Linked DNA regions of Homo sapiens: all the other regions are linked to region 3. Evidence: fine-mapped expression QTL. A gene starts in region 3. Each other region holds a variant in brackets. All regions are shown on one strand. Distances are between the middles of the regions. Region 1 overlaps BOP1 (BOP1 ribosomal biogenesis factor). Region 2 overlaps MROH1 (maestro heat like repeat family member 1). Region 3 holds the start of DGAT1 (diacylglycerol O-acyltransferase 1).

Region 1 (10,149 bases), 47 kb before region 3:
GCTCCTTCAGGAAGGCCCTACACCAAAGCCTTCTCCTTCCCCCACAGCCCCCAGGGCCCAAAGGAGACTCTGCCTCACACCCAGGTGCTCCACTGGGACCACAGTCCTACCCTGGGGCCAGGCCACACTGAGGAGGGTATAGGCAGGCACTGCCTCTGGCTTCAGAGCTTCTCAGAGCTTCCAGCCCCTCCCAAATGAGGGCAGCCCCCCGCAGCCAAATCTGCTCTTGGACACAGCCCAGTGCCAGCCTCTCCACGCCGGCGGAACCCAGCCCGGTGCCAGCCTCTCCACGCTGGCGGAGCCCAGCCCGGTGCCAGCCTCTCCACGCTGGCGGAGCCCAGCCCGGTGCCAGCCTCTCCACGCTGGTGGAGCCCAGCCCAGCAGCACGCATCCCCCTTCGCCTGCAAGCTCCTTATGAGAAACAGCCGACCTCCTGCCCCTCCTGAGATGTGCTCCTGGGACTCAGTCAGAGGTCCAGAGGCAACGGCCCCAGCCCACATCAGCCACCACCAGGGGTGGGGGGCAGGGGGACCCCAGGGGAAGGGAAGGGCCACCACTGCCCAGAACATCAGGACATTAGGAGGTGGCCCTGGCCCTGTTCTGCCCGCCTGGCCCCCAGCCAACCTGTGGCCCACCCCACAGCACACACGACAGGGGCACCACCCATGCCCGTGACCCCCACCCCGACCATGACCCCCACCCAGACCATGCACGCCACGCCCAGGGAGCCCACAGCCACCCTGCAGACGCCACAGGAGCCCCCAGAGCCCGTCCACAGGCCAGACACAGGGGCATGGAGCCACACCCAGGTCCTTCCCCTTCACAAGCCATGATGACACACATACATTGCAGTCTTGTGTCCCAGACCCCGAAATTGCTCTTGCAGATGGGGAAGCAGGACGCCCACGTGGGCCTCGGCTCCAACAGTGCGGCCCACCTGCGGCAGGTCCCAGCACCCCCAGGGCAACCCCAGCCCCAACCCCCAGCACCTGCTAGGCTGTGATGGAAGCCGCCCCACCCTGCCCAGTGGGAAGCAGCCCCAGTCCTACCTCCTCATCAGAGCTGTCCTCCGCATACTCATCCCCAATCCGGGCGCTCGCCATCTCTGTCCTCGGGCAAGGAGTGCTGGCCTGCAGAGAGAGAGAGAAAATGGTCACTTCAGGGGATACAGGGTACCCTTTGACCTTGGGGGGATCCCAGGAAGCCCACCACCCCGAAATCTCTGAGCAGCTCCAGCCTGGCACAGGCCTCAGCACAAGGCCGAGAACACCCAGCTCTAAGGGGGCCTCTGGGGGCTGTGGCTGGCACCCGGCGCCGCAGGTCCTGCCCACGGCCCTGTCCTCTGTGAGGGCTGGACTGCAGCCTCCCGGGGCCTCTGTCCCTGGGCTGACACGGGTGTCAGGCTAGACACGGAAGCCACTGGGGCAGTCAGGAGCAAAGCCGCCAGCTGAGGACCAAGACCCACCGCCAACCACCCGTACCCCCATTCATGTCAAAGCCACAGGACTCCTCCCAGGGGCCCCACATGGCGCTCCTGCCGAGCCCCGCCTGGGACGGGGGCAGCATGGTCGGGGGGAAGAAGGAGACGCAGCCGTCGCAGCAGGGTCACTGGGGCCAATGCTCTTGAAGGGGCGGGGGACACACATTGTCCACCCATCCCGGGGGCCACGTCCCGCCCAGTCCAGCCAGCAGAGGGCCCAGAGAGGGCCCCGAACACTCAGAAGGCCTGCCCAGCGTTCTCCCACCCACCACGTCCACAGCCCAGGCTGACCCCATCCCGCCGGGTCACAGAGTGGGCGCCACTGAGAATTCACATCCCAACCTGGAAAACAGATTCTGCCCTCGACTGCGGAGGTGAGGATGGCTCCAACCGGATCGGGTTTACTGGCGGAACCAAGGCTGATGGGGAAAACAGGCCCACCTCTCACCCGTGGGGGCAGTAAAGTGCTCGGGCGCAGGAACCCCAGAGCGAAGGCGGGCACGCCCCCGCCCCCACCCCGAGCCCCTCTTCTCTCCGGCCCGGGCTCCTCCCCTGCCTGTTTTTTCCTTCAATATAAAGAGAGATGGGAGACTAAGTTTTTTCCCAGGCCAGGAACAAGGAAGGATTCAGTTTCCACGTCTCCCCCTGCTGCTGACAGTGGCCTGGGGCGCTCAGTGACACGGAGCTCTTGCCCCTGCCTGGAGCACATGAGCCCCCACAGCCGCAGCAGATCCGTGACCCCGGCCCCAAGCCCCAGACGCGCACAAGGGCAGTTCCACACCCGGCTGCGGTCGGCTGCCCCCGCCTGGCCTCTGCGGACGGGTACCGGGCTGGGCTCCCGACCCCTCACAGTGGCCGGGGCTGAAGCACCGCACGCTGGAGTCCCAGCCTCGCTGCTCATGGGCCGCAGTCCCAGGGTCCTGGCAGGTGACAAAAGACTTGTCACCCAGCGCTCTGTGCCCCGTGGCCCCTGTGCTGGATGTGGACAGGCCACGGCACAGGCAGGCTCTGGGCAGGGGGCAGAGGTGGCCTTCGAAGGTGCTGGGTTCCCAGGGGCGCAGCATCCCCGTGGGACAGCTGTGGGGCACAGAGTCCACCAGGGGGCGACGGCGCTCAGCCAGGCCCAGCGCCCGAAGGGCAGGGGCGGTGCGGGCAGGGGCGGTGCGGGCAGGGGCGGCCACTGCTGGGAACTGCCTGACCTAGAAGGCCCCTTCAGATTTTGGAGGCAGATGCTGTGGGGCATTGAACGTATTTTTTTTAACTTAAAAATTAGAGGAAAAGGCCACCAAAACCCTAACGACACAGACAACGGAACATGAGCCCACGCCACGCTCCGGACTCCTGGGGACAGGACCCCCTCCCGCCACGCCCATGCCTGGAGTCAGCCCGGATTCTCCAGGGTCTCCAGCACCACCCGCAGTGTGCGTGGCCTGACTGAGGAGGGGTCGGGCCCGATGGAGCACGAGAGTTGCGTGAGGGTGAAGTAAAAGCTGAGAGAGTGGGCGGGCGAGCGCCACTGGGCAGAGGCAGGCGGGTCTGAAGGACCGACGGGTGGGCAGGGAGCCGCCGAGGGGGAGCGCAAGGACGAGGTGCCAGCAGGATGCGGGGCCGCTGGGGCCAAGGAAAGGCTGCTGTAGTCCCTGAACCCTGCGTGGCCTCTGCCCAGCCCCAGGGCTAGAATGTCACCATGAGGACCAAAGGGAGAAACCCACAGTGGGCTCAGCCAGACAGAAACGGTGTCCAAGCGCATGAGCCCCCTATTGTGACCACACCAGAGCCTCCCCTCCCCAGCATCAGGCCAGCCAGGCCGTGCCCCACTGCCACCAACCAGGCATGAGACACGGGCTCTGCCCTCACCTCCTGGGAGAGGATGGCGACAGAGCTGCGGTGTCCCGGTTCGGTGGGAAGAGAACTCTGCTCCCAGGGCTGCCCACAAGAGGGTTCTGCTGGAGACGTGGACAGCAGGAGGGAAGCAGTCCTAACTTGCCCAGAGACCAGAGCCAGAACATCGCTGTCGGGGTGCCAAGGACACCAAGACAACCCAGCGCTGCACCACAGACCCCACACCCAGCACCTCAGCACGGCCAAGGCTCCCTAGGGCCCTGCCCACGCTAGCCGCAGGGTGCCCAGCACAGAGACAGGCTGCTATCCAAGAGCTCTGTGCCGATGGCTCGTGTGACAGCAACGACTCATCAACAGGTACCTAGGAAACCCACATTTTGTTTTAAAGAAAGTACATCAGCAGGAACTGAAAAGCCCAGAGAAAATACAGCCGAAAAACATCCCTTTTTACTCAGGGAAAAGGAAGGTAACTCGGGGCAGGAGCCCAAGAGTGGCAGGGTCGTTCCCAGGCATGGAGGCCAACCCTGCATGAGGCACTGGCCATGTGTGCTGCCACCAGAGGCCCCAAGACCACCACGGGCCATGACCACCAAGGGCCATGACCGTCACGGGCCACGACCGCCATGGGCCATGACCCCCATGGGCCTCAAGACCACCACAGGCCACGACCACCACGGGTCTCAAGACCATCATGGGTCTCAAGGACAGGCCCCAAGACCACTGCGTGCCACGACCGCCACAGGCCCTAAGACCACCATGGGCCCCACGATCACCACAGGCCACAACTGCCACAGGTCCCCTATACCACCATGGGCCCTGACGATCACAGGCCACAACCACCATGGGCCACGACCACCACAGGCCCCAAGACCACCACGGGCCAAGACCACCATGGCCAAGACCACCACCAGCCATGTGCTCAGCCACCTTAGGACCACCACAGACCAGAGACCACTCCACAGCACTGTGACTCGGTGCCCCACTGCAGACAGCTGTGCAGAGAGGGGCCCAAGGACCCCCATCTATCAGGCCTGGTTTAGATGAGACCCTGGCAGTGGAATGAGGTTCTGGGGAGCGCTGGGGGAAGAGACTATTTGGCAAGCGTAAGGGTGACTGTGACCATTTTAAAACACGGCCACAAACCTTTGATTTTCATCGCATCAAGAGACAGAGTCTATGTCCCCCCCGCCGCAAATCTGGGTGGGCTTGTGGCTGCTTTACCCACCCAAGGGAGGCAGCCCACACTGACACCACAGGATTCTGGGCTGAGGTCGTGAAGGCCGTGTGGCTCTGCCTGGCACAGGAGACCACGTCCTTGCAGCCCTGAGCCCTGGGAGAGGGGACAGCTGGACAGGGGTACCCTTCGTGAACATGGCTGTCAGGGGCGGTCTGGACACACAAGAGGCCCGGCTGTGCTCACCTGAGATCCTCACCCAAGTCCCAGAGCACAGGATGTGAGCTGAGTGTCGATCTTCCTCAGGTGGAATGTACCAGAACCCTCTGGGGCTCCCCGGCCCCTCAGCATGACACTGTACTCAGGGTGTACTGACCCTGCTGCTTTCGGCCTGAACTCTGACCCCTCGAATCCAGAATGCTACAAAATATCTGTTTGATGCTGCAAAGTGTCAGGGCAGGTGGCAGAACAGCTGCCTGACTCCCCCATGGGGGCCAAGAAGCTTGGAGCTG[G/A]CAGTCTTCAAAAGAACCCAAAGCAAGGCCACAGGCAGAGGCAAGAGCGGAGTTTACCACCAGCCCTGGCCCCTGGTTCCATCCCCAGCTCTGTGGTCCACACCCAGGCAACTTCTCCACCACTGACCAGCTGGTGAGAATCACTGGGCAGCCCCTTTCCAGACTCCACAGAGCTGCAGCTCCAGACCACTCTCCAGCAGACGGCACCAGCACCCAGACCCCAGAACCACAGCGACAGGGGGCCCGAGCCCAGGGTTCCCACGCTGCAGCAACGCGGCCTGCCACCTGCCATTCCCAGAGCCTTCGCTGAGACGCTGGCGGGATCCCCTGCCCAAGAGTGTGCATTATGCTCCGGCACAGGCCAAACTCTCCTTAAATTATCTGGGAAGGCCGGGCCCAGTGGCTCACACCTGTCATCCCAGCACTTTGGGAGACCGAGGCAGGCGGATCAGTTGAGGTTAAGAGTTCGAGACCAGACTGGCCTACATGGAAAACCCTGTCTCTACTAAAAATACAAAAAATTAGCTGGGCTTGGTGGCGCTCACCTGTAATCACAGCGGGAGGCTGAGGCAGGAGAAAGAACTGCTTGAATCTGGGGGGTGGAGACTGCAGTGAGCTGAGATCAGGCTATTGCACTCCAGCCCGGGTGACAGACAGACTCTTGTCTCAGAAAAAAAAAAAAATCTGGAATCATCACTTTAATACCAGGTCTTCGGCCTTCTCTCACTTTCATACCAGGTCTTAGGCCTTCTCTCAGTTTAATACCAGGTCTTTGGCCTTCTCTCACTTTAATACCAGGTCTTCGGCCTTCTCTCACTTTCATACCAGGTCTTCGGCCTTCTCTCACTTTAATACCAGGTCTTAGGCCTTCTCTCACTTTCATACCAGGTCTTCGGCCTTCTCTCACTTTAATACCAGGTCTTCGGCCTTCTCTCAGTTTAATACCAGGTCTTAGGCCTTCTCTCAGTTTAATACCAGGTCTTCGGCCTTCCCTCACTTTCATACCAGGTCTTTGGCCTTCTCTCAGTTTAATACCAGGTCTTCGGCCTTCCCTCAGTTTAATACCAGGTCTTCGGCCTTCCCTCAGTTTAATACCAGGTCTTCGGCCTTCCCTCACTTTCATACCAGGTCTTTGGCCTTCTCTCAGTTTAATACCAGGTCTTCGGCCTTCCCTCAGTTTAATACCAGGTCTTCGGCCTTCCCTCAGTTTAATACCAGGTCTTCGGCCTTCTCTCACTTTCATACCAGGTCTTTGGCCTTCTCTCAGTTTAATACCAGGTCTTCGGCCTTCTCTCACTTTCATACCAGGTCTTTGGCCTTCCCTCAGTTTAATACCAGGTCTTCGGCCTTCCCTCAGTTTAATACCAGGTCTTCGGCCTTCCCTCACTTTCATACCAGGTCTTTGGCCTTCTCTCACTTTAATACCAGGTCTTAGGCCTTCTCTTACTTTAATACTAGGTCTTAGGCCTTCTCTTACTAGTGCTTTTTTCTTTCAAGACAGAGTCCCACTCACTCTGTCACCCAGGATGGAGGCAGTGGCATGATCTCAGCTTACTCTAACTTCCGCCTCCCAGGCTCAAGCAATTCACATGAGGTTTCACCATGTTGGCCGGGCTGGTCTCGAACTCCTCAAGTGATCCGCCCACCTTGGCCTCCCAAAGTGCTGGGATTACAGGTTTGGCTCACCGCATCCAGTCTTTTCTCACATTCTTGACTGTGACAAGCAGATTAACTGATAAAAACAGAAACTTCTGCACAAAATAATAAAAAGAAAAACTCACATAAATGAAAAGACAAAACCAAGCAAAGCTGGGAAAAAAATGAATCTAAATGAGCACAGAAAGGAAAAAACAGCTCTGAGCGCACGGACCCCACAGATCCACTAGACACCAGCGATAAAGAGAAGGCCCTGCAACCAGTCCTCGCTCCGGTGAGCCCGCGGCCCGCGCTGCCGTGTGCTGCTGGAGAGGGGACAGGAAGCGAGGCACAGGCCGGCAGGAGGCAGCTTCCTCCCTGGCTGGTCAGTGGAGGGCTGGGAGCACCCGTGTCAGGGGTGCTGCAGGGCAGGGAGCACACAGCCCAGGGCGCCCCTCCAGTGGGATGGCTCGCAGACACAGTCAACAGCTGGAAGGGCAGGGGCTGCAGAAAGTCCCAGGGAGTAGGAACCAGGCCAGGAGACAGAACTCGTGGGTCATCAGGTGGCACAGAACGCAATTAAGAGGCAGGACTGCCAGGCCCAAGGCAGGGAGGCTGGAGATGGGGTGGGCCCTGGGGTGAGGCTGGCCCACCAAGCTCGTGCCAGAGCAGGTGGACCCAGAAAGAGGGGTCACTGTAGCAGGGACGCAAAGGGTGGGGAAGGGATGCCTGCCCTCAAACCACACAAACACAAAAATAAATCAAACCCACTGGCCCCAAGGAGGCTACTAGCAACAGCTGTGGGCCCTGCCGTGGCCCACAGATACCCCAGGGAAGGAAGGGGGAGGTACAGCACCCACCCCATCTTCTTGGGCCCTGTCCCTGTCCTCATCCCTATCCTCTGACCACCCCCCAGACACAGAGTACCCTTCTTCACCTTCACTCCTGAGCTCCTCATGCCAACAGTCAGGGGAGGAGCTGCAAAGGGCACAGCCAGACCCTGCTCCTTGAGTGCACCTCACAAAACACCAGGACTCCTGACCCCAGAAACACAGACAGCAAATGCTCGTTGTTGAAAGGCACTATGGTGGCCAGGTGCGGTGGCTCACGCCTGTAATCCCAGCACTTTGGGAGGCCAAGGCAGGTGGATTACCTGAGGTCAGGAGTTCAAGACCAGCCTGGCCAACATGGTGACACTCCCTCTCTACTAAAAATACAAAAAAAAAAAAAATTACCCGAGCGTGGTGGCTGGCATCTGTAATCCCAGCTACTCAGGAGGTTGAGGCACGAGAATCGCTTGAACCCAGGAGGCAGAAGTTGCAGTGAGCCGAGATTGTGCCACTGCACTCCAGCCTGGGCGATAAGAGCAAAAAAACTCCATCTCAAAAAAAAAAAAAAAAAAAAAAAAGAAAGGCTCCATGGTTTGGGGCAGTTTGTTGTGGTGCCAGATAACAAAACAAACAAACAGAGAGAAAACAGCAAAGGGCTCCTGGCCCAGGGAGCTCAGACCAAAATGACAAGAACCAGCTAGCTGTCCTGCCCTTGGGCAACAGCCATGAGGGTTTCCAGCCAGCTAAGTGCATGGATGATGCCGCCACAGGGAAGAGACAGAAGGGCTTCCGGGACTGGGACCACGGGCACGCACCGCCATGCCTGGCTCATTTTTTAAATTTTCTGTAAAAATGGGGTCTCATTATATGGCACAGGCTGGTCTTGAACTCCTGGGCTCAAGAGATCCACCTGCCTTGGCCTCCCAAAGTGCTGGGATTACAGGTGTGAGCCACTGGGCCCAGCCTGTGACTCATTCTTTTTATTTTTATTTTTTCAGTTAAGCCCAGCTGTGCGAGCCTCATTCTTAATGAAAGAAAAACATCACTAAACAAGAGGAAAAGATGAAGCAGCAACACCATGAGGGAGGCTGGTGGTGGGAAAGCAGCTGAGGGGCGGCTGCAGTAGTGCATGGCATCACCGCCTAGCGGAGGGACGCTCCAAGCACCTTCACAATTAAATGCATTGATGGCCAGGTGCGGCGGCTCACGCCTGTCATCCCAGCACTTCAGGAGGCCAAGACAGGTGGATTACCTGAGGTCAGGAGTTCGAGACCAGCTCAGCCAACATGGTGAAACCCGTCTCTCCTAAAAATACAGACATTAGCCGGGCGTGATGACGGGCGCCTGTAATCCCGGCTACTCAGGAGGCTGAGGCGGGAGAATCACTTGAACCCAGGAGGTGGAGGTTGCAGTGAGCCGAGATTGCACCACCGTACTCCAGCCTGGGCGACAGAGCGAGACTCTGTCTCAAAAAACAAAACAAAACAAAACAAAACAAAACTAGCCAGGCATGGTGGCGGGGACCCTGTAGTCCCAGCTACCAGGGAGGCTGAGGTAGGAGGATCCCTTGAGCCCAGGAAGTTGAGATTTTGGTGAGCCAACATCGCACCACTGCCCTCCAGCCTGAGTGACAGAGTGAGACCCTGTCTCAAACAAAAAAAAGCATTTATCCTTTGACCTAGAAATTCTCTTGGAATTTTCCCCAAGAATGGTGTGCACATGTGAGAAACAGCATGTTACTGTCAGGTCAACTGTAAGAGCAAAAGCCTGCAACTGCCCACCCACTGGAGCTGTTGAGGCCGAGCTGCCAGGCACTCTACGGGCACCAAGCACTGTACAAACCAGAGCCATGGCCTCCCTGACAGAACCATCCTGAGACAGCGCACGGCTGCCCCTTCTCTTAAGAAACCACCATTCAAAAACTCTGTGCGAGTTTGGATATGTCTAGAACATCCTGGAAAGAGACTTCAGCACTGGAAACAGTAGTTGCCTGGATGCAGCAACAGGAGCCAGGAGGGAAGGGTAGGAGACTCGTTCCCTGGCACACCCCTCAGGAGCACCTGAGCATCCAAAGGTGCCCTAGAACACCACGTGCAGCTGCTCACTGAATGCCACGTAATTCTACACAGTCCTTAGAAAGGAGGCAGGGTCGTGTGCATGTCAATGCTAAAGGCCTGAGGGCAGAAAGCCAGAGGGAAGCCTGTGGCCCGGCCCTGCAGCCAGAAGCACGCCCACCCTGGGTCCACCCAGGCAGGTCCGGAGCCCTTGGCAGGTCGCCAGGTCTCCACAGGGGCCGCCAGCAGCTGACCCCCAGCAGTCACCGGGCTCCCCGCTACAAGGGCCTCCCACTGTGGGGCTCTCCGCAGGACGCCCCGGGCCGGTCTGGGTTGGTTTGGGGCACACACTTGGAATCAGATTTATGGAGGAGGCTCTCTGAAGGTGACCCATCAGCCACATCGCTGCCAGGATGGCAGAGATGAACAAAAGCCGCAGCTCCCTCCCATGCCAGTCACACAGCCCCTTCTTCACAGCACCATCGGGGCCGGGTATACCCACCAAGGGCTAGGCGGCCTGGGGAGTGAGGCCCTCGCCCTGCCTGACTTCGTGTGTCCCTGAGGTGTCCGTGACATGACACATGCATGCTGCCTGATGCCCAGCCCCATCCCGCCACTGTTC
Region 2 (10,149 bases), 69 kb before region 3:
ACTGCACTCCAGCCTGGGCGACAGAGCAAGAACTCTGTCTCAAAAAAAAAAAAAATTGGCCAGGCACGGTGGCTCACGCCTATAATCCCGACACTTTGGGAGGTGGACCACCTGAGGTTGGGAGTTCGAGACCAGCCTGACCAACGTGGTGAAACTTCATCTCTACTAAAAATACAAAATTAGCCAGGCGTGGTGGTGCCTGCCTGTAATCACAGCTACTCGGGAGGCTGAGGCAGGAGAATCACTTGAACCCAGGAGGCGGAAGATGCAGTGAGCCATGATTGGGCCATTGCACTCCAGCCTGGGCAACGAGAGCGAAACTCCGTCTCAAAAAATAAATAAAATTTATTTCATATATATATATATATATATATGAATTAGCTAGGCGTGGCAGCACGTGTCTGTAATCCCAGCTACTCAGGAGGCCAAGGCAGGAGAATCGCTTGAACCTGGGAGGTGGAGGTTGCAGTGAGCTGAGATCGCGCCGTTGCACTCCAGCCTGGGCAACAGAGCAAGACTCTGTCTCAAAAAAAAAAGAAGTGGAGTCACTGTGGCCATCTCTACCCTGCCACCCCGTGAGCTAAGGATGGGTTCTACATTCATAAATGGTCAGAAAAAGACAAAAAGAATATTTCATGACACGTGAAAATGATAGGAAATCCTGATTCCAGTGTCCATGAGTTAAAGCTTCCGGAAGCAGCCGCTCCGTCCACTTCCACGCTGTCTGTGGCTGCTCTCGCACTACAGCGGCAGGCTTGATGAGCTGCCAGAGGCCACCCGGCCCCCAAGGCCTGAGCCATTGTCTGTCCTGGTCAGAAGCTTGCCAGCCCTTCCCTGGGCACAGGTTGGCTTGGCTGTTGTATGCAGCCTCATGGGGGCCCACAGTGGCTGAGTCTGTGGCCTCCTGGCGCCTCAGCGACGGCCACCGCGTCCTTGCTGGCGCGTGCTGTGTGCCTGCCCTCCTGTGCATTTGTCCACGTTTCCTGCCAGGTCATTTGCTCCCCACACTCACGCCCAGCCCTCTGCTGCTTGCCTTCTGCTTGAAGGACGCTCCTGGAATTCCCACCACAAGGATCAGTGACACACTGTCCGCCTTTGTTTACTTGAGAATGTCTTTATTTGGCCATCCCTTGTGACTGTTCTTTCCGTGGCTTAGTATCCTAGTTCAGTGGAGTTTGCTCAGGTGTGTGACAGCACATCACTGTTTCTGGCTTCTGTCGTTGCTCCTGAGAGCCAGGTGAAGTCTCCTAGCACCGCATCTGTCCAGGAAGCCACTGCCTGCTTGTTGCTCATCTGTAGTTTGCAGGTGGGGGTTGCTTTTCCTTTGTTCTGCCAGGCGGCTTCAGGGCTCCCTGTCTGTAGGTCAGTATATTTCACCAGTTCTGAAAACCCCAACCTACTCCTTGACAGCCATTGTTTCCTCTGCCTCTGGGACATCCATCAAATGTACGTTAGCCCTCATTCCATCTTCCGCGTCCCTTATTCTGTCCTCTGCCTTCCCACGTTATTCTCTGTAATAATTTATCTGAAATTTTTTTATCTTCCTATTCACTGGGTAAGTTCTTAATCTTCCTATTTACTGTTTCTCTCTTCTACTGTATCTAGACTGGCACCAAATATGTCCACTGAGTACATTAGTGTTTCATTTCTAAAAGAGCTGTTTGGTTTTCTTTCAAATTTGCTGTATCTGTTTTTAGAATTTTCAGTTCCCGTCATATTCAGAGTTTGTTGTTCATTTCTGCAAACGCTGAGCGTAGCTGCCTCACGGTGCGTCTGCGGTGCCATCTGAGTGTTCTTGGCAGCACTGCCAGGTCTCCCTGGGAGCTGCGCTCTTTGACCCTGTGACGTCCTGAGGCCTGGGCCAGATGCTGCTTCCTCCAGGGAAGATTTGTTCTCCCTCCCAGTAGCTCCCCAGGGACCTCCCACACCACTGCCCTGGGCCCTGTGTGTATAGGCCCAGATTTTTCTCTGTGTCCTTTATTACCAGCTCTGTTTACAGATCCCTGGAGTCAGGGGAAGGGGTGAGCTCAGATCTGAGGCCAAGAGGCCATTTCCCAGCTGGCTGCAGCTGAGCCTGGTGGCTGTGTCTGAGCGTCGTGGAGCCAGGGTCCACGGCACCCAGGTGGCGGGGGGCAGGCGCCCTGACCAGCCACGGCCTCAAAGTGACTCTCCTGCTCTGCTCCAGCCACACCTGCATGCTGTGGCGGGCGCTGGCGGTGGAGCCTCGCCTAGCTGCCCAGGTCCTGGGGCTGCTGCTGGAGAAGATGAGTAGGGACGTCCCTTTCAAGGAGAGCCGGGCCTTCCTGCTGGGCCGCACCCCAGACCGCGTGGCCACGCTGCTGCCTCTCTCGGTGAGTCGGGCTCTCGGGGCCACCTTGACACGCTGTCCCTGCCCCGCTTGCCTGGGTGCCCGGGGGCAGGCCTTTTGATGAGGTGGCCCGGACGCCACCCCACAGGCACCTGGAGGCAGCACCGGGCTGGGAGCTCTGAGCTCAGGCTCGTAAAGGCCTCACAGGTGTGGGCCCCCAGGGGAGGCCACTTCATGTTTTATCCTGCGGAAAAAAAATAAACCCAGCTTGGCAGTGTTTTAAGCAGTAAAGCAGCTGTGAGAATTCCCTCCTCCTCCTTTCTGAGGAGCTGAGAACAGATGGCCTGAGGTCTGTCCTGTGAAGGCTGACTGCCCCTCTGTCCCTGTCTCCTGCCTCTACCCCTGAGGGCCAAGCCATGCAGTGGTGCGCCTCGCCCTTCCTGCGCTGCAGCTGGGATCTGAGACCTCCGAGCACATGATGCAGGCGAAGGGGGATGCAGTCTCATTGGGTGCAGGGCTCAGATCTCCTGCGGCCTGGAGGGAGGCATGGCCCTGTGATGACTTCTCCCCCAGGCTACCTGTGCACTGTTTGAGGTCATGTCCACGCCTGCAGCGGGGCCCGCGGTGCTCGAGCTCTACCCCCAGCTGTTTGTGGTGCTTCTGCTGCGCGTCAGCTGCACCGTGGGTGTCCAGCTGCCCCGGAACCTGCAGGCCCAGGAAAGGAGGGGTGCCAGTCCAGCCCTAGCCACCAGGAACCTGGAACCCTGCAGGTATCTGGGTCCCCACTTCCCACCTCCAGTACTGATTCGGAAGCACAGGCATGCGTGTGCACGCGCGTGGTGGGGGCGGACGGCAGATCTGAACCACGGGGAGTGTGGGAGTGACTTTGCTTCCAGGGAGCTGGCGCCTCACCCAGGTGCAGGGCTGAGCTGTCAGTGGTGACATCCATGGCCACCCTTCTCACACTGGCTGTGAAGGCCTCCCTCCTCGCCTCTGCGGGCGGTCTGCACGGTGGTGCTGAACACAGGCAGCTGGTGGGGGCTTCGTGTGGCAGCTCAGGCAGGATCCGGGTGGTGCCTTCTCCTGGGAGTGGAGTTGTGTGGAGTCTTTGGGGTATAGGCTGGGGTCAACCATGGCAGGACCAGCTTTGTCCCTGAAACTGCCCCAGCAGAGCGGCCTTTGGCACGTGTTCACAGCCCCACACGTAAGAGCTGCCCAGGTGCCTGACATGAAGCATTCCAGGTCCTACACACCTGCCTGGGGCCATAGCACAGACAGAGGAGGCTGACACCCTGGGCAGGCGTGGCTGTGTGGCCTGACCCCAGGACCACGAGCCCATGTGAACGCAGGGCTGCCATGCCGCACCTGCCCAGGAGGGCTCTGGTTCCATCCCACCCAGGCGCCCAGGTTTGGGTGTGCACCTTGGCCAGGACACACCAGGGGGACAGCCTCACTTCAGCCCCTCCCCCTGCCCCCCTTGGCCAGGACACACCAGGGGGACAGCCGCACTTCAGCCCCCTCCCCCTGCCCCAGCACCACAGGCTGCTCAGACCCAGGCCAGCTCGTAAAGCCCAGTGGGGCCGGCTGCCAGCGCTGCTCTGCCCCTAGCAAACTGAGTGGAAAATGTGAATGGGATGGGGCAGCCACCAGCCCCTGGGCCTGGCCTGCTGCGAATCAGTGCCTCCGCCCCGAGCTGTAGGGCTGCGGGCCCCACGCCCACCCCCAGGTGCCCCTTCACTGGGACGATTGCAGAGCCTGGTGTACAGGCCGTTCGCCAGTGGGTCGGACCCTTGTGGGTGCCACATTCTTAAATGTCCTGGGCACACAAACAAGGGAGGCACCCTCATCCAAATCACTAACACATTCGTGAGCCAAACACACGCTTCCCGTTAGATTTGTCGAAGCTGGTTGTGAGTTGCTGTGCCTGCGCCATTTGCAGCCTGGAGCGCAGCCCCTGGTCCAGATGGGGCCTTGCAGGGCTCGAGGCCTGGAGCAGGGTGTGGAGCTGGAGGCAGAGCTGCACTCAAGCTGGGCCCTGGCTCAGACCATGAGGCCCTGGCTCAGACCATGAGGCCCAGCTGAACTGACTGTGGCCCGGTGGGTCCTCCCTCCGCCTGCGGCTGGCCTGGCCTGTATGTGTCAAGGGCATCTCCCAGGAACTGCAGTGACTGGTGTGGCTCTGTCCTCTGCCTGTGGTCAGTGCTGGCTGTCCTGTTCCCAGGGCTGGAAGCCCCCTTGGCACCCAGGCTACCTGGGCTCAAAGATCAGGCCCCAACACTGGAACCATGGGACTCCAGGCTTTTCCAGAGCTGCCTTCTCGTACGTCCGACCTTGGGGAGGGAACCCGTGAGAGAGAGGAGCCTGGGGACACTCATCAAGGGCTGTGTGAGGGGCTGGCCCTGCTGTTGGTCAGCACCAGACCACCCAGGCACACCCCATGGGGACAGTGGTATACTGGGAGCAGGCCCCCAGCACCTCCTTCCTGGGCTGCCGAGACCCCCGTGGCCCTCAGCTCCTACAGCCCCTGTCCAGCTCTCAGGCCGCCTCATTCCTGCCGGCATCACCAGCCCTGTGTACCCAACCGTCCAGAAGCCTCATGGGGCCCATCACCAGATCTCTAACAAGCTTGTCTCATGCTCCTGTGCCCACCACACCCTCCTCCTAGATCCCACCTGCATGAGGGCCTCACACACCATCCAGGCGAGTAGGGCCTGGCCCCCAGCTTGGCGGGGCCACTTGTTCCCTGCTAGGCCCACTCCACGTCGCAGCACACCAGGGGCCCTGTGGGACACCTGGCAGGAGGTGACCAGGGCAGTGGCACTGTCACCACCACCAGCGGTCACCACACGGCCCGTGCCGCTCGGGGGTTGTCTGCTTTTGGGCCAGGTGCTCCTGAGGACGAAGCCTTGTGGGGACAGAGGTCCAAAGGCGGCGGGGGCCTAAGTGTGAGGTGCTCGAGGGCAGCGGAAAGCCACATGGCAGGGGCTGTGGAGTTGAAATGGAGGGTCCTGCTGGGTGGGGACGCTGGTGCAGGGCATCCTCTGCCCCAGACCGTGCCTGTTGGGTCACACACTACGCCCCACCCACTGGCAGCCAGGAGTGGAGCAGCCTCAGCAGGGAAGGGCTCATCTGAGCCGATGGTCGATGCCAGGCTCAAGCTGGGCCCTGTAGAGGCTTCAACATCAGACTCTCCCTGCCAGTTTCTGGCCCAGCCACTGCCAGGGAGACCAGAGGGCAAGGTGCTTGCCTGGTGGAGGTCTGGGGAGTCAGAGAGTTGGCCAAGGTGGCCCCCATTGCACGCCCAGGGCGCCTGCTCTTCAGCACGCCAGCAGCCCCTCCAGCTCTCGGCACCATCCTCCCGCTCACTTGCCAGCCAGCCTCAGCCGACACTGGGAGTGGATCAGGGGCCTGCTCGCCTCCCAGAGGGCTGTGGAGTCTCCTGGGGTACAGGTGTGAGAACCCGAGGTGCCAGGCAGGAACAGGCCCGGGGTGGGGGGCACCTGTGGTGTGGGTGCCCAGCAGCGTCTGGGTGTCCGGAAAGGAAGGCCGGTGCAGCCAGAGGGCTTTGCCTGTGTCCAGCTCTCAGGCTGGTGGCCAGGTGGCCACAGGCTGACCTTGCTACTAGCTCACCTCCAAGCCAACATCTGCGTCCTTGCCTTGGGTGGGGAAATGGGGGGCCTCTAGCAGATGGCCCAGAGCCTGCTTCCTGGAGAGTGGCTCTGGCAGGGATAGGGCTAGCCACCAGGTGGGCAACACGCATTGGGTGCAGACCTGAGGAGTTAATCAGGAAGGGAGGTAGGCGTGTGTGCCCTACCAGCTGAGCACCCTGGCAATCCTGCAGCTCTGCAGTGGACACCCTGCGGTCCATGCTACTCCGCAGCGGCAGCGAGGATGTGGTACAGCGCATGGACCTGGAGGGAGGCTGGGAACTGCTCAGGACCTCGGCGGGGCATGAGGAGGGGGCCACCAGGTTGGCCAGGTGAGCGGGCCCAGCCCACTGCAGCTCCAGCACTGGCTGGGCTCCACCGGATCTCGAGCCCAGAACATGACAGGATCAGGCGGGGGCCCATGCGTGTCAGGCCAATGGTGCCCTGGGCTCCTGCCTGTTCACTCTCTGGGGCAGGGGTAGGGAGGCACCCCTGCAGAGGCCTGGCGAGGCAAGCTGGGAGGCATCTCTGAAACATAGAACTCCCAGAACCTGGCAGCTGGCGGTGGAGCGGACCAGGGCTGTGCAGGGTGGAAGGTGCCTGGGTAGGGTTCAGCACAGCAACAGCCCCTGCACCCTCAGCGGCCCCCTTTCCCAGGGCCATGGCTGAGCACGCAGGGCCCCGACTCCCCCTGGTGCTGAAGACGCTGGCATGCACACACAGCAGTGCGTATGAGAACCAGAGGGTGACCACCACCGCCTTCCTGGCCGAGGTAGGCCCTTCCAGGGACGGATGCTGGGCACCAAGGTGGGGCTCCTGCTCAGGACAGGCACGGGATGC[CCTTTT/C]CTTACCCCTAAAAGGCCCCCTCGACCGTGGTCTGTGAGGGAGGTTATGTGGATGCTAGCTACCTCCTCCCCCATGCCAGAACTCACTCAGTCCCACCCAGGGACACCCCCTCTGTGCCTGGTGAGAGGAGGACCGAGGCTCCCTGCAGCCTGTACTCTCCCCAAGTCCAGCTGGGTACATTTGTAGCTGGACAGGGCTGGCCCCTGGGACCCCAGGTGCCCTTGGTGGTGTGGTCTTGGCCTTCGTGGCCAAAGATGCCAAAATCTTGCCCAAGGCCGTGCAGCAGAGCACAGCGGGCGTCAGAGCAGGCCCCAGCGGCACAACAGGGAGGGGTCGCCACTGATCGGAGACCCAGGGAGTAGGTGCTCCACCTCTGTCTGCCACACCGGCGTGGGGACAGCCTCTGGTGTTCTGGGCCTGGGCTGGTGGGTTGAGCCCTGGGGTCAGCGGGGAGAGGGAAGTCACAGCACCTCTGCCTGCAGCTGCTGAACAGCAACGTGGCCAACGACCTCATGCTCTTGGACTCGCTGCTGGAGAGCCTGGCGGCTCGCCAGAAGGACACATGCGCCAGCGTGCGGAGGCTGGTGCTCCGCGGCCTGGCCAACCTGGCCTCCGGCTGCCCTGACAAGGTGGGGTGGCCACCAGCCCCTCTGGGTCCCAGGCAGCATGGGTGGGGGGCTGTGCATGGAGGCCACCCTGTCTTGTGGGGTAGCAGACGGTGACTCTGGGACCCAGGCTGAGTGTAAGGTATCCTCAGGTGCGAACCCACGGCCCCCAGCTCCTCACAGCCATGATTGGCGGGCTGGACGACGGGGACAACCCTCACAGCCCAGTGGCCCTGGAGGCCATGCTGGGCCTTGCGAGGCTGGTGCACCTGGTGGAGTCCTGGGACCTGCGCTCAGGGCTGCTGCACGTGGCCATCCGCATCCGGCCTTTCTTCGACAGTGTAGGCTGGTTGGGGCAGGGGGAGGGAAGAGGGCCCCAGCCCTTCCTGCCTCTTACTCTGAGCTTTAGCCCCAGCCCCACCCTCCTCCCTGTCTCCCACCTCGGCTAGGTGACCGTGGAGAGCGCGGACCTGCAGGGCTGCTGCTTTGCTGGGCCTGGCAGCCCCCACCCGTAAGGCCCCCACCCGTCGGGGTGTTTCCTGGCCCGGGTCAGGCAAGGGCACCCATCAATGGCAGGGGGCTAGGCAGGCAGGCCTGCAGGGGCACAGCCTGTGAGGAGACGTATGCTGCATGTCCTTCCCAGGAGAAGATGGAGTTCCGGACGGCATCTATCCGCCTCTTTGGGCACCTTAACAAGGTCTGCCACGGAGACTGTGAGGACGTCTTCCTGGACCAGGTGGTGGGCGGGCTGGCGCCCCTGCTGCTGCACCTGCAGGACCCTCAGGCCACCGTGGCCAGCGTGAGTAGCCAGGGGGTGAGTGGGATGGGGTGGGTGGCCTCAACTGGACTTGGCCCCAGTGCCGCATCCCTTAGGCCTGCAGGTTTGCCCTGCGCATGTGTGGCCCCAATCTGGCATGTGAGGAGCTCTCAGCTGCTTTCCAGAAACACCTGCAGGAGGGCCGAGCCCTGCACTTCGGGGAGTTCCTCAACACCACCTGCAAGCACCTGGTGAGGGGTGGGGCCAGGCGGGGCGTGGTGGGTGGGGCGGGGCCAGGCGGCACTGACCAGGCCTCTCCCCAGATGCACCATTTCCCAGACCTGCTGGGCCGTCTCCTGACCACCTGCCTGTTCTACTTCAAGAGCAGCTGGGAGAACGTCCGAGCTGCTGCACCCCTGTTCACCGGTAAGCACCACCCCCTGCCCCACCCCCACGCCGCCCGGCAGCCCCGCCTGATGCCCCCACTTCACAGGGTTCCTGGTGCTGCACTCGGAGCCCAGGCAGCAGCCGCAGGTGGACCTGGACCAGCTCATTGCGGGTGAGCACCCCTCCACGGGGCCCCTCCGCTGGGCCCTGCTGACCCTGTAGGCACCCGCAGGGACTAAGTGATTTTCCTGGATTTCAGGACTTTTTCCCTGTCACTGGTGACCTCATCGTCTCTAGTAATTCACGGAAACTTCTTAACTGTTCCAAAAGAGCTTAAAAAACACTAAAAAAGGAAAAACGATCTTTCCGTTGGCTCCTGAGCCTCCCAGCAGAGGCTGTCAGGAGAGCGTGGCCCACGCGCAGGCATGGGCATGCCGAGGTCACAGCCCGCAGGCAGCCCCCCTCCTCTACCCCCAGCGCTCCAGATCCTGCTGAAGGACCCGGCCCCCGAGGTGCGGACGAGGGCTGCTGAGGCCCTGGGCCGCCTGGTGAAGCTCGCCTAAGGCTCCGGCCAGCACCCCCAGCGAGGAGTATGCACCCAGACCTGTGCCTGAGCTCCAAGACAGGGCCTCCTGAGGACCACAGCCTGGGCACACGACTGGAGGGGCCTGGCCCCAGAACAGGCACTGCTGGGGACCAAACCCAAGCCCTTCAGTGAGGGATGTGCCCAATAAACTCATCTGCTCCCAGCGAGTGACTGACAGGGTGCGATGCTGAGCCTCTTAGGGGATGGGCCAGAGGGTGCCCTGGACTGGCTGTGTTGTCCCCACTGTTTTTGCAAAATTGAGTGAGGGGAAGGCTCGGCGCTGTGGTGGGGGCGGCTTTGTTGGCAACCCCAATTCAAGAAGGTGGGAGCACCAGGCAGCACAGGGTAAAGGCTCTGTTGACTTCAGCACGACCACCCCAGCCCCAGGCAGGCAGAACAGCTAGGTGAAGAGGCGGACAGTCCCGTCTGCCCCCGAGGAGAAGACCCACGGCTGGGTGGGGTGGAAGATGACGTCCAGCACTCCCAGATCTCGGGTCAGCACGTGTCCCTTCAGCACCTTGACGGGCACCAGCAAGGGGTTCTGCAGAAGGTCACTGTGGGGACGAGGAGGGCTCAGGGCACGGCCAGACACCACTGCCCTGGGGAGGGGGCCAGGCAGGGTCAGCACTCACTTGTACACCATGCCATGGCAGACGATGACACTGCCGTCGTCCGAGCCTGACGCAAAGAGTGGGTACCGCGGGTGGAAGGCCACAGCCCGCAGAGCCTTCTTGTGGTGTCTGGGGGGAGGGAACCAGGTTGAAGGCAGGCTCGGGCTGAAGGGAGGGGCTCTGCTGGCCGCCTCCACCCCCAGCTTTCCTCACCTCAGCATCCTGTATGGCTTGGTGGAAAGATCCAGGTCAAACCACACCAGCTTGCTATCGTAGCTCCCACAGATGACGTTGTCACCTAGGGCCAAAGGCTGTGATGCAGGTGTTCCCGCTCTCACCTGCAGGGTGCACTGCCCTGCCCGTCACCTACACCCCTCACCTGCAGGGTGCACTGCCCCTACC
Region 3 (10,149 bases):
CTCGTGTGCCGGTGTAGCCTCCACTTGTTTGTGATGTGTGCCCAGGCTGAGGGGGCTGAAAGGAACCCACCCGGGGCTAGGTGCCTGCTGGCTGAGAGGCTTCCAACAGAGGCAGGCACCCACCCATGATCTCCCAACCAGCGCTGGAGGGGCACAGGCAGACCCTGCCTGGTCCTCAGCATACTGCACAGGTGGAAGAGGGCACCCAGCCCAATAGAGGGACTGCCATATAGCTAGGACAAGGACAGCAAGAGCTTGGCCAGGCCCCCACACGTCCTAGGAAGCAGTGCTGGCTCATATACACTAGCTGCAGGCCCGCCTCACCCCCCATCTGCCGTGCCACTGGGACACCACACACAGCATTGAGCAAGTCCTCAACTTTGTAAGAGGAGAGGCCAGAGCCTCCCTTTCCCTCCCGCACACGCACATCTGCCCCTCAGAGCCCCTAGGCAGGGAGAGTGGGCCTGAGAGCCATGGCAGGAGCCCCATGAGGCAGACGCCCTCAGGGCACCCAAGGCAAGCTGGCTAGGATTGGGGTCGGCAGTCAGACGGCCCTGCCCAGGAGGCAAAGGGCCAGGGAGGCCGAGAGGCAATGCCAACAAGCCCAACCTTTGCTCCCCAAGACCAAGGTTGGTGCAACACATGCCCCATCTACACCTACACAGTTCCTGGACAAGTCTACACTAGTCCCCAAGACCCCCAGGCAGGGAGGATGCTCACACCTTTCCCTCTGCCCATCTAGACTGGAACACAGGGGCAGGCAGCTCCACCCAGCCCCTGCCTCTCCCAGCTCCAGCCTGAGCGCCCTGCATCCACCCACCAGGTCCATCCTGGGCCATGCAGTGAGGCTGTGGTCTCCACCAGAGCCTCCCTCCTCCCCAAGTTGGCAGCTGTCTTCCCAACTGACCACCGCCCTTGGCTCATCTCCCCAGCCTACTCCACTCACTGCCTGCCCACAACCAGGAGGCTGGGTGTAGACACCGCCAGAGCCCCAGCACCGTGACGGGAGCAGGGGCACGAGGCCCAACTGCCCAGCAGCCTCTCTGGGCTGTCTGTCTGGGGGCCTCTCCACTGCCCCCTCTTCCCCAAGTTCGAGCCCATTTGTTTTCAGCAGAACAATCCCAAGCCTCAGGGTTGGCCTTCTTGTACCACGACCTACCAACCACAGCTGTTTCACAGCAGTATGACCCCTGCCCCCTTTGAGCCACCAAGGACACCATGCTGGCTTTATCCATGCCCATCTCCAAGATGAAAACAGGAGTCGGGAAAGGGTGGTGCTTCCCAAAGCTCACTGCAGACAATCCTACACAAGCTTTCTCAGGGGCCCCTTGACAGGCTTCCAAGGCCTTCCTCAACCCAGCCACAGCCTCACCTCAGGCCCTTCACAGGCCTGACCAGCCCCACCCAGAGGCAGCACCCCCACTGCGCTACCCCTACCCCTCACAGGCCCCCATGAGGAGGAAGCCCCAGTCCACCAGTGCCCACAGAGCTCCAAGCAGTCAGTGCGGCCAGCAGCATGTGGGCTACAGGGCAGGCTGCATGGAACGGCATGGGGAGGTGGGATCTGCCCCTGTGCCTAGAGCACCTTTATCACCCTCTCACTGACTGGAGGATCTGCCCAAGCCTCTGCACCTTCCAGCTGTCCCTACACCCACTCCCTAGTCCAAGAAGACTCGGAGCAGCCTGCCCTCCCTCCTGCAGCCCCCAGGCCCACCCAGCCAGCAGGATCCTCTCAGTCTCACGGCAACACTGAGACCTTGGCACATGCCCACCCGCCACCCTGTCTCCAGGTTCAAAGTGTGCCCAAAGGCACAGGTCCCAGTGAGTCCCACACTTGGGGCCCACACAGTGCAGCTCCAGGGCCAAGCACAATGAGGAGGGGGCAGAGTCCAGCTCTGCTCACTGCCGCCTCCTCCACTCTGGCCTCTGGGCTGGGCCTGGGTTCAAGATGGTTGGGGCAGGCTCCCTGCACCTCGCAGACCCTGCTGGAGAGAGAAAGGGAGAGTCAGAAAGGACACCTCAGGGACAAAACACCCTGGGAGAAGCCAGAAACCGGATGGCCCCGACTGGGGTGCCTGTGAGCAGAGGGCTGGTGGGTGTGTGCAAAGAGCCTGGCAGGAGTGAGCCACAAGCAGAGCAGAAAGGGGTGCCCTCTCCTGCCTGCCTCACAGCCTCACCTTGCCACGGGGCCGGAAGAAAGGAGCTCACACCCAGAGCCCAGCCCTAGGTGAGCAGGAAGTGTCCGTGAGGGGAGGAGGCCCGAGCTCAAGGAGTAATGAGGAAGCGGGAGAGGAAAGGCTGGGCTGGGCCAAGAGCAGCAGGAAGCTGGAGGGAGGGGAGGCTGTGAGGCTGACAAGGGGGTGCGCTAGAGGCCAAGTCCCAGGAGGGCAGGCAGAGCAAGGCCTGACGCAGACAGCAGGGAGAAGAGCCCAGTGTCCACAGCCAGTGGCCGAGCCCTGCTGCATCCCTAGGTCTGAGGGACAAGCACACATAGCCTGCAAGTCCTGGAGACCCAGGAGCAGATAGACTTTTGGTCTCAGCCTCCAGCCCCATGAAGGCCTCACCTCTCCATCTACTGCCCCTCTTCCCAAGGAGACCCGACCTCCACGGCAGGGACAGGGACTCACCAGGCCTCTCCCACGAGCTCTGCACCCATCCCACACCAGCAGAAGTACAGGAAAGCCTTGCTGGTTTGCAAAGCAAGAAGGTGACTGCTCTCCCCTGCCTACCCCCAGGTGGCGGCTTGGCCCAAAGCTGGGACTACCCTCATCTCACACTAAAAAAAATCTCAATTCCCGGCCGGGCGCGGTGGCTCACACCTGTAATCCCAGCACTTTGGGAGGCCAAGGCAGGTGGATCACCTGAGTTCAGGAGTTCGAGACCAGCCTGACCAACATGGAGAAACCCCATCTCTACTAAAAATACAAAATTAGCCGGGTGTGGTGGGCGCCTCTAATCCCAGCTACTCTGGAGGCTGAGGCAGGAGAATCACTTGAACCTGGGAGGCAGAGGTTGCAGTGAGCCAAGAATGTGCCATTTTACTCCAGCCTGGGCAACAAGAGCAAAACTAGTCTCAAAAAAAAAGAAAAGAAAAAAAAAGAAATCTCAATTCCCACGTCCTCCACAGGTCATGTAGCCATCCCCCTGCCTCCTGGAGAGAGGGTAACTCCAGGAGCCACACCTCCTTTTCAGGTAGGAGGTGCCTAGGCCAGCCTCCCTCACCAGCACCCCAGGCCCACAGCAGGCAAGCACCCCTCTCAGGAGGGCCACCCTCCTCCCCACGGCCCCTTCAAGGCCTCCGTGCCCGACCTTTGTCCATGTTGCTCCATGCCTGACTCTCGCTGAGGTTATCTTATCTCCCAGATGAACTGAGCACCCTGAGGGCCACGACAGTGCCTGCCCTCCCCCAACCCCCTCCCCATGGTGCCCCGTGAAGGAAAGCTCTGTTCTTGCTCACTGAGAGAGCAAATCATTGCCAACTACATGTCCAAAATCAGCCCACTTCTGCCTTGATAACCTCTAGGCCCTCAGCTGCTCTCTAAAACAAAGCCCTGAGGGCCCCTGGGCCAGGGTAAAGGCCATAAAGGGGGGATGGAGGGTGGCAAGGGGATTGCTCAAGGCCAGCTTGGTGGAGGAAGCCAATGCCCAGGCTGGCCAAGTCCTTCCCATCGGCCATGGTTCTCTCCCTCCACCCCTCTCTGTCAGTCATCCAGCTGAGCAGGGCACACGCCTGCAGGTGTGTCCACCACCCCCATACCCCACTCCCCACCTGGAGGATGGAAGTCCCAACACAGAACCCAACTCTCTGTCCCTACAACAGACGCTGGCTCTGGCAACATCGGCAGGGCTCCAGGCCAGCCTAACCACTGGAGCAATGAATGGGCCACGCAGCCACTCTCAGAAGGGTCTGCAAGGACAAGAACGCCTCTAACACTGCCCCTTGTCCGGGGCAGCTGCTGATTCCCCTGTCCTCGGACAGGCCTGGGCTCCTCTGGCCCCCTCCCTGGCAGGCCAGCCCTCCTCTGGGAGCCTTTCCTACCCGCAAGGCACCGCTCATAGCACCAAGAAGGAACCTATCACCACAAACTGCCCAGATCTTATCTGACTCCTTCCATATAAGGGGACACTGTCCAGGGCCGGGCCCCCACCAGCCCGCCCCTCGAAAAGCTCCTCAGGAGCCCCTGAGGATGCACAGACCCAAGAGGATCTGGATGCGGGACACCTGCCGGCTCCCCTCTGCCTGGCCAAGGCCAGCTCCAGAGCCCCTACCCAGTGACCTTGTCAGGTGACTCTCCCCAAGCCTCAGTTTCCCCACAGGGCCCATAGGGCACACCGATCCCCGCTTAGCCCAGGGCCCATGTTCTCGGACTCGGAGCTCGCGCTTCGGCCAACCCCGGAAAGTCGCGGGGCCCTTGGGTCAGAGGTTAGGGGGTCAGGCGCTCCGCTACCTCAGCTCCCAGTGGCCGCTGCCCACGCCGGCGTCTCCGTCCTTGTTGGGGGCCGGGGCTGGCGCGTCCCCCGCGGCTCCCACGTCGGGGCCCGCAGCGGCGTCCCGCACCTCCTCTTCCGCCGCCGCAGGCCCGCCGCCGCCGTGGCTCGAGGGCCGCGACCCTGTCCTCCGGCGCCGGGAGCTGCCGCGGTCGCCCATGGCCTCAGCCCGCACCCGGCCGCAGCCAAGCGTGGGCCCGCCGGGTTCGTAGCGCCCGAGGCGCGCGGCCCCACCTCCGGGCCCTAGACAACGGCCGCCACTGCCCCCTGCCGGCCGCCGTAGCCCGGGTGACCGCCTCACCAGCGCGTTCAACCCGCCCGCGTCGGGCCCGTCGGCCTCAAGGACAACGGCTGCGTTGCTCCGGAGCCGCTAACTAATGGACGGCCGCCTCTCTCGTCCATTTGTAGTCCGCGGCCGACCTGAGGCGGGGCCTGGAGAGGCTGACGGGGCGCAGGGCACCCTGGGAGTCGTAGTCGCCGCGGGCGCGCCGGCGCAGAGCACCCTGGGAGTCGTAGTCGCCGCGGCCGCACCGGCGCAGAGCACCCTGGGAGCCGTGGCAGCTCCCAGGGCCGGGGCTGCGGGCCGCAAGTGCGCGCAGCGGGAACGGACCTTGCATCGCTCCCGCGTGGTCCCGGGGTCCTGTCCGGCCCCACGGAGCGGGATGGTCCGCTGAGGGGTGCGCTGGGCCCCGACTTCCTGGCCGCTGTGCGCCCGCCCCTCGTCCCACTTGTGTACACACGGGGTCTCGGCGAGTCACTCCGGGCAATCATTTAGGAAGCGCCTAGTGCGCCACGGTCCAGCTGTCCGGGCCGGTGTCCGCGGCGGCTCGCGTCGCCCGCCACCCAGCGCGTTGGTTTCTGCGCACGCAGCTTACAGTAACGTCCCTGGCGCGCTTCTGCTCCGCGAGCCCTCTGGTTACCCCGGCAGGAACCTGCTTTTCTTCGCCTTAGGGGGACGTCAGACAAGGGCCAGGTCAGAAGACCAAGCTGGAGAAATGCACCAGGCCCTGCGTCACCGGGACGCCTGCCTTGCACGCGACTCCCAGGCTCTCCACCTCCCCGCCTGCAGAGCCCGGCGAGAGGAGGGCGAGGGCGAGGGCGAGGGCGCAGGCCCCTTGGTGGTGTCTTCTCAGCCCACCCACTCTCTCCACAAGGAGCTCCACGTCCCTCAACTCTCAGGGCCTCCCAGTTTCCAACGTGGGCCAGCCTCTCCAGGATGTCAGAAGTCTGGGCCGCTGGATCGCCGGGACTCAAGAGGCTTCTGTGCATTTGCACGGCCTGTGCAACCGCCCTGTTGTTTTTTGTTTTCTTTTTTCTTTTTTTGAGACAGTCTCACTCTGTCGCCAGGCTGGAGTGCAGTAGCGCGATCTCGTCTCACTGCAACCTCCACCTCCTGGGTTCAAGCGATTCTCCTGCCTCAGCCTCCCGAGTAGCCAGGACTACAGGCGCGTGCCACCACGCCCAGCTAATTTTTCTGTTTTTAGTAGAGACGGGCTTTCACCATATTGGCCAGGCTGGTCTCGATCTCCTGACCTCGTGATCCGCCCACCTCGGCCTCCCAAAGTGCTGGGATTATAGGCGCAAGCCACCGCGCCTGGCCTGTTGTTATTTTTTCTAAAGATGGGGGTCTCGCTATTCTGCCCAGGCTGGTCTCGAACTCCTGGCCTCACGCAATCCTCCCACCTCGGCCTCTGAAGGTGCTGGGATTACAGGTATGAGCCACTGCCCCAGACATCTTGTATGTTAAATGAAGCAACTAATCAACTGTAACAGCCACAGTTGCGGCCCACCTTGGCTTGGTGTGCATATTGCACAGGGCATGGAGTGAGAACATCCTGGATCTCAGGATGCCAGGGTTCACTGAGGACTCTGACTCTAGAAACACCTTCATTCCTCTGGGGTGAGCAGGGGCAAGCAGCACTTCTCTGGAAGCAAACAGGTGCTCCTCCTGAGGTGGGGTCCTCTCCCGTGGGCTGGTCACAGCCTCGCCTCTGAGCTCCGTCCTCTTCCACCACCTCCACCAACAGTGGCCAGCAGGGCTGCCCCCTTGGTTGCCCCCCTGGTGACATATTCTTGTCACCACAGGCCGCTGTGGGTTGCTGCCAACCAGGTATCAGGCAGGCTGGAGCTACCTGGCAGATGCCCTTTGTGTAGCCTGCCGAGTGGGGCCGCCCTCACTGGACCCAAGAGCCCCTCACACATGGGCCTTGGTCGGTCAGGACCAGCCCCATCTCCTACCCAGTCTCTCAGAATATTCATTTGTTGAATGCAGTCGCTGGCAGACACACTCTGTGGCCAGGTAGGCCCAGACCTGTCTGAGTATGGACTGACAGCAAGCTCAGAGAGGTCTGGACCTGGCCACGGAGCACCTCATGCTAGGCAGAGGAGATCAACGACTCAACCTGTGGTCGCGTCCCAACTCAAAGCCGGCAAGTGGCCACAGGAGAAAGACAATGGGAGGGTGGACTGGACCACCAGGGAGGATGGGTCGGGCCTGGTGAGCAGAGCCAGGCTTGGAGCCAATGGGGAAAGCACTGGCTGTGGGCGGGCCATTAAGGAAGGGCTTTGCCACCGGGGGTGGGGGCGTGGCGGGGCAGCAGCTCCAGAGGTGGGTGAAGCCCTGCCCAGACAGGCCCTATACCCTGGGATCTAGGGTGAGGGGAATGGTCAGGGTAGGTGAGGTTGGTTGGGGACAAGGGTGTGTATGGCTGGGTCATCGAGGAAAGCATGATGCAGATCACCCTGCTGGGGGCAGCAACAAATGAGGGGGCCCAAGCCCGAAGCGAGTTGCCTTCCAGGGCTAGTGGAATAAAGGGCTGGAAGTGGGTTGGGGCCTCAGGCTGATCCCAGGGCCTAGGGGCCATGGGTGGGCCAAGAAGGCCTGTGAGAAGCAAGGGTCCCAGGAGAGTTCACAGCCAGTGGTGGTCTATGGCCTGTGCTGCTCATTCAGAGGGAAACTTGTGTCTGTGGCTGGGAGGAACTGGGGGGTCGAGCTCATCCCAGGCCTCAGGGAGGCCACCTCCATCCTTCCACCCACTCTACGCATCAGAATCCTGGAGAAGTAGAAACAGCCAGTCGCTGTTGGAGTCCTTTGGAAGGAGTGAGGCTAGGAGCCTTCCTCCTGGCCATTGCTGTCTGCCATTGTCATTGCTGGTAGTGCTCTCCCAAAGAGAGCACCCACCTGCACCACAGCTCCTCCAAGTGCCAGGCACACAGGCCATGACATGCTGCAGACCTGGTTCCCCTGCTCTCCACCCTAGTGGAGTCTGGGCAGGTCTGTCCCCTGTCCCTGCTAGGGTGTGGGCAGCTTTGCTGGCCCTGGATCTAGGACTGACCTGGTTTGAATGTATGTGCCCGAAGACTTTGGGCCTCTCGGCTCATGCCTGCCTACCTGGTTACCAGGGGACATTGCTGGGCAAAGGGTCCCTGTCCCTTATCTCCTCCACTACTCATTCTGTCTAGAGCCCTTGGGCGATGGTTGCAGAAGCCTCTCTGCCCCCTGGGCACCTCCTCCCTGGAACCGGTCCAACCCAGCTATCCATGGAGGCATCCGCAGACACTGGGGGAGCATATCTGGGAAGCCTGGGGGTCAGAATGTGGGCAGCAGGCCACAGGAAAAGGGCCAGACCTCGAACTCTCCACTGTCCCCATTTCCTGCAACAGCATCTCAGAGGGCTTGAGGTGGCTATCAGGCCTTCCATCACAGCATAAAGCTCCTTCAGGGAGAGAAGAGCGAAGGCACCCAGGCTGGGGAACAGCAGCTCCTACTATACCTACCCTGCCCACTCTGGTCCAACCGTGGGCTTGGCCTGACTTTAGACTGGAACCCCTTAGTGCTCCTGTTCCTGGTGTGGAGCAGATCCACCTACCCCAGGGGAAATGCCAACTACTTTGCCTTCAGACCTGATGCTCCTGTGGTTGGGCCTGCCAAGCCTGCCCTCCCCAGTGGAAGAAGAGGGCCGTCTTGTGAAAGGCCTCAGGCTGACCCTTGCAGCACCAGCCTCTGAGGTACTGCCAGACTGGGAAGACCCTCCCAGCCACCCAACAGCGTGGGCCCAGCCCAGGACACATCAGCCCGACACTCCAAATTCTATCAAGAGTGGCATTTATTCTCCTTGTGGAGGTGCGGTGCTCCGGGGAGCTGGTGCTATTGTGCTTAGGAAGGAGGTCTGTCCGTCCGTCCGTCTGTCCGGCCGGCCTGGCCCCAAATGGGGGCGGAAGAGGGGCACGGCCCGAGTAAAAATCCCGGCCTATTCCGGGTGGGAATATGTACAAGGCGGCGGGGCACAGGCGGGGGTGGGGGCGGGCGGGCCGGCGGCCGCAGCCCCCACCCGAGGGCCCCCGCACCTCGGGCCCTACTTGTAGAATCAGTACAAAATAGGTGCTACCTAAACGTTCCTTCTACCTGAATTCGCTAAGTCGGTTATTGTGCTGCTTAGTTATGGGGGCGGGAGGGGGCCCATGGCTTTCCACGGCGGCGGGGTGTAGGGGGAAGCAGGAGACCCTGACGGGCCCACAGCCCTCCAGCTTTCTCCTTAGGTAGGTAGACAGGAGTATGGGGTGGGGTGAGGTGGGGGCGCCTGTGTGTGCGTGTGCATGCGGCACAGGTGGGCAGGCCCCAGCTTGGGAGCTGTGCAGGCACCACACCTGGTTGTGTAGGGTGTTTGGATGTGGGCACTGCTGTGCAGAGCGGTGGGTCATCCTTGTGGGGGCAGCCACGCTTGCTGCTGGGGGTGAGGCTGGCCACACCATAGGCTACAGCTGGCACCTTCTTCTCCAGCCATGGCTCTGCCCCTGGCTGGACATGGCAGATGTGTGTTGGCCAGAGGATCAGAGAAGTGGCCACCTGTGTGGGGGCCCAGGAGCCCTGGATCTGTCCCCCTCAGCTGGAGTCAAAAGGCCTAACTCAAAGGTAGAGCCCAGTTGTGCCCAGCAGGGACTGGTTGAGGTGGGGAGGAGTGTAGGGGGCATGTGAACCTAGGGACCTGGTCTCTCTGCATCTGCCGTTCTTCCCTGGCCCACCCAAGCCGGTTGGACCCCTGTCCTGCAAACACACCTCCCAGCAGGTGGCTGCGCTCCTGGCGGACTCAGCAATTGGCCTGGCACATAGTAGGTGCTCAATGAACGGTCAGTGAATGATTAATGCCTGAAGGAGGGGTCTTGGGGGCAACCACCCCACCCCCGCCCATGGAACCATTACAGCCGCCGGGCTCTGCCGTGGGGGTCGGGGAGGGGTGGGGAGAAAGTCTGCGCGGCCGGCCCCGCGCAGCGTCCCTGATCTAGGGGCCTATGGGGTGGGTAGGGCGAGGGGATACCTGATTCTCAGTAACTCTAGAGGCGGCGGCAGCTTCGCATGCAGTGCGCATTATTGCTCTATAGTCGGCTTCGGACTACCTAAGAGGGAGGGGGAGCGGGCAGCCCCGGGTAGGATCGGGAGGAGGGGTGGGGCTGCATGCAGTGACGTCACAAAGGCGGCGGCCAATGGGGCGGGCCCTTGGGGCGGGGTCGCCGCCGAGGCTTTGGCATAGACGGGCGAAAGTTGGCAACCGAGTGGGGGCGGGGCCTGGGTCTCAGGGGCGGGGCCTGGGTCTCAGGGGAGGGGCCTGCCTCGGAGAGGCGGGGCCTGAGGCTCCCTAGAGGCTCCCAGCTAGGGGCGGGCCT

What was found.
Region 1: its variant is fine-mapped to the expression of DGAT1 in whole blood (TOPMed, PIP above 0.99).
Region 2: its variant is fine-mapped to the expression of DGAT1 in whole blood (INTERVAL, PIP 0.96).

What each region holds. Positions count from the first base shown.
Region 1 is chr8:144,275,175-144,285,323 of GRCh38, forward strand. It overlaps BOP1 (BOP1 ribosomal biogenesis factor), which reads right to left. Exons shown (of 16, transcript NM_015201.5): 3 at 1,050-1,130. Among named protein-coding and RNA genes, the nearest start is that of BOP1, 11 kb to the right of the region's middle. RefSeq lists an enhancer at 1-335 and a silencer at 2,634-2,683. The variant G/A (reference allele first, on the strand shown) is at 5,009.
Region 2 is chr8:144,252,628-144,262,776 of GRCh38, forward strand. It overlaps MROH1 (maestro heat like repeat family member 1), which reads left to right. Exons shown (of 44, transcript NM_032450.3): 34 at 2,186-2,351; 35 at 2,882-3,078; 36 at 6,150-6,287; 37 at 6,613-6,727; 38 at 7,284-7,430; 39 at 7,559-7,747; 40 at 8,050-8,205; 41 at 8,280-8,414; 42 at 8,487-8,589; 43 at 8,657-8,722; 44 at 9,028-9,299. The coding sequence ends at 9,113. It overlaps BOP1 (BOP1 ribosomal biogenesis factor), which reads right to left. Exons shown (of 16, transcript NM_015201.5): 14 at 9,961-10,045; 15 at 9,769-9,876; 16 at 9,418-9,690. The coding sequence ends at 9,537. It overlaps MIR7112 (microRNA 7112), which reads right to left and starts at 10,110; the gene lies at 10,046-10,110. The variant CCTTTT/C (reference allele first, on the strand shown) is at 6,796.
Region 3 is chr8:144,321,989-144,332,137 of GRCh38, forward strand. It overlaps DGAT1 (diacylglycerol O-acyltransferase 1), which reads right to left and starts at 4,864. Exons shown (of 17, transcript NM_012079.6): 1 at 4,449-4,864. The coding sequence starts at 4,648. SCRT1 (scratch family transcriptional repressor 1) reads right to left here. Exons shown (of 2, transcript NM_031309.6): 2 at 8,577-10,149. RefSeq lists enhancers at 1,940-1,999, 9,880-10,149 and silencers at 4,491-4,560, 4,571-5,290, 9,875-10,149.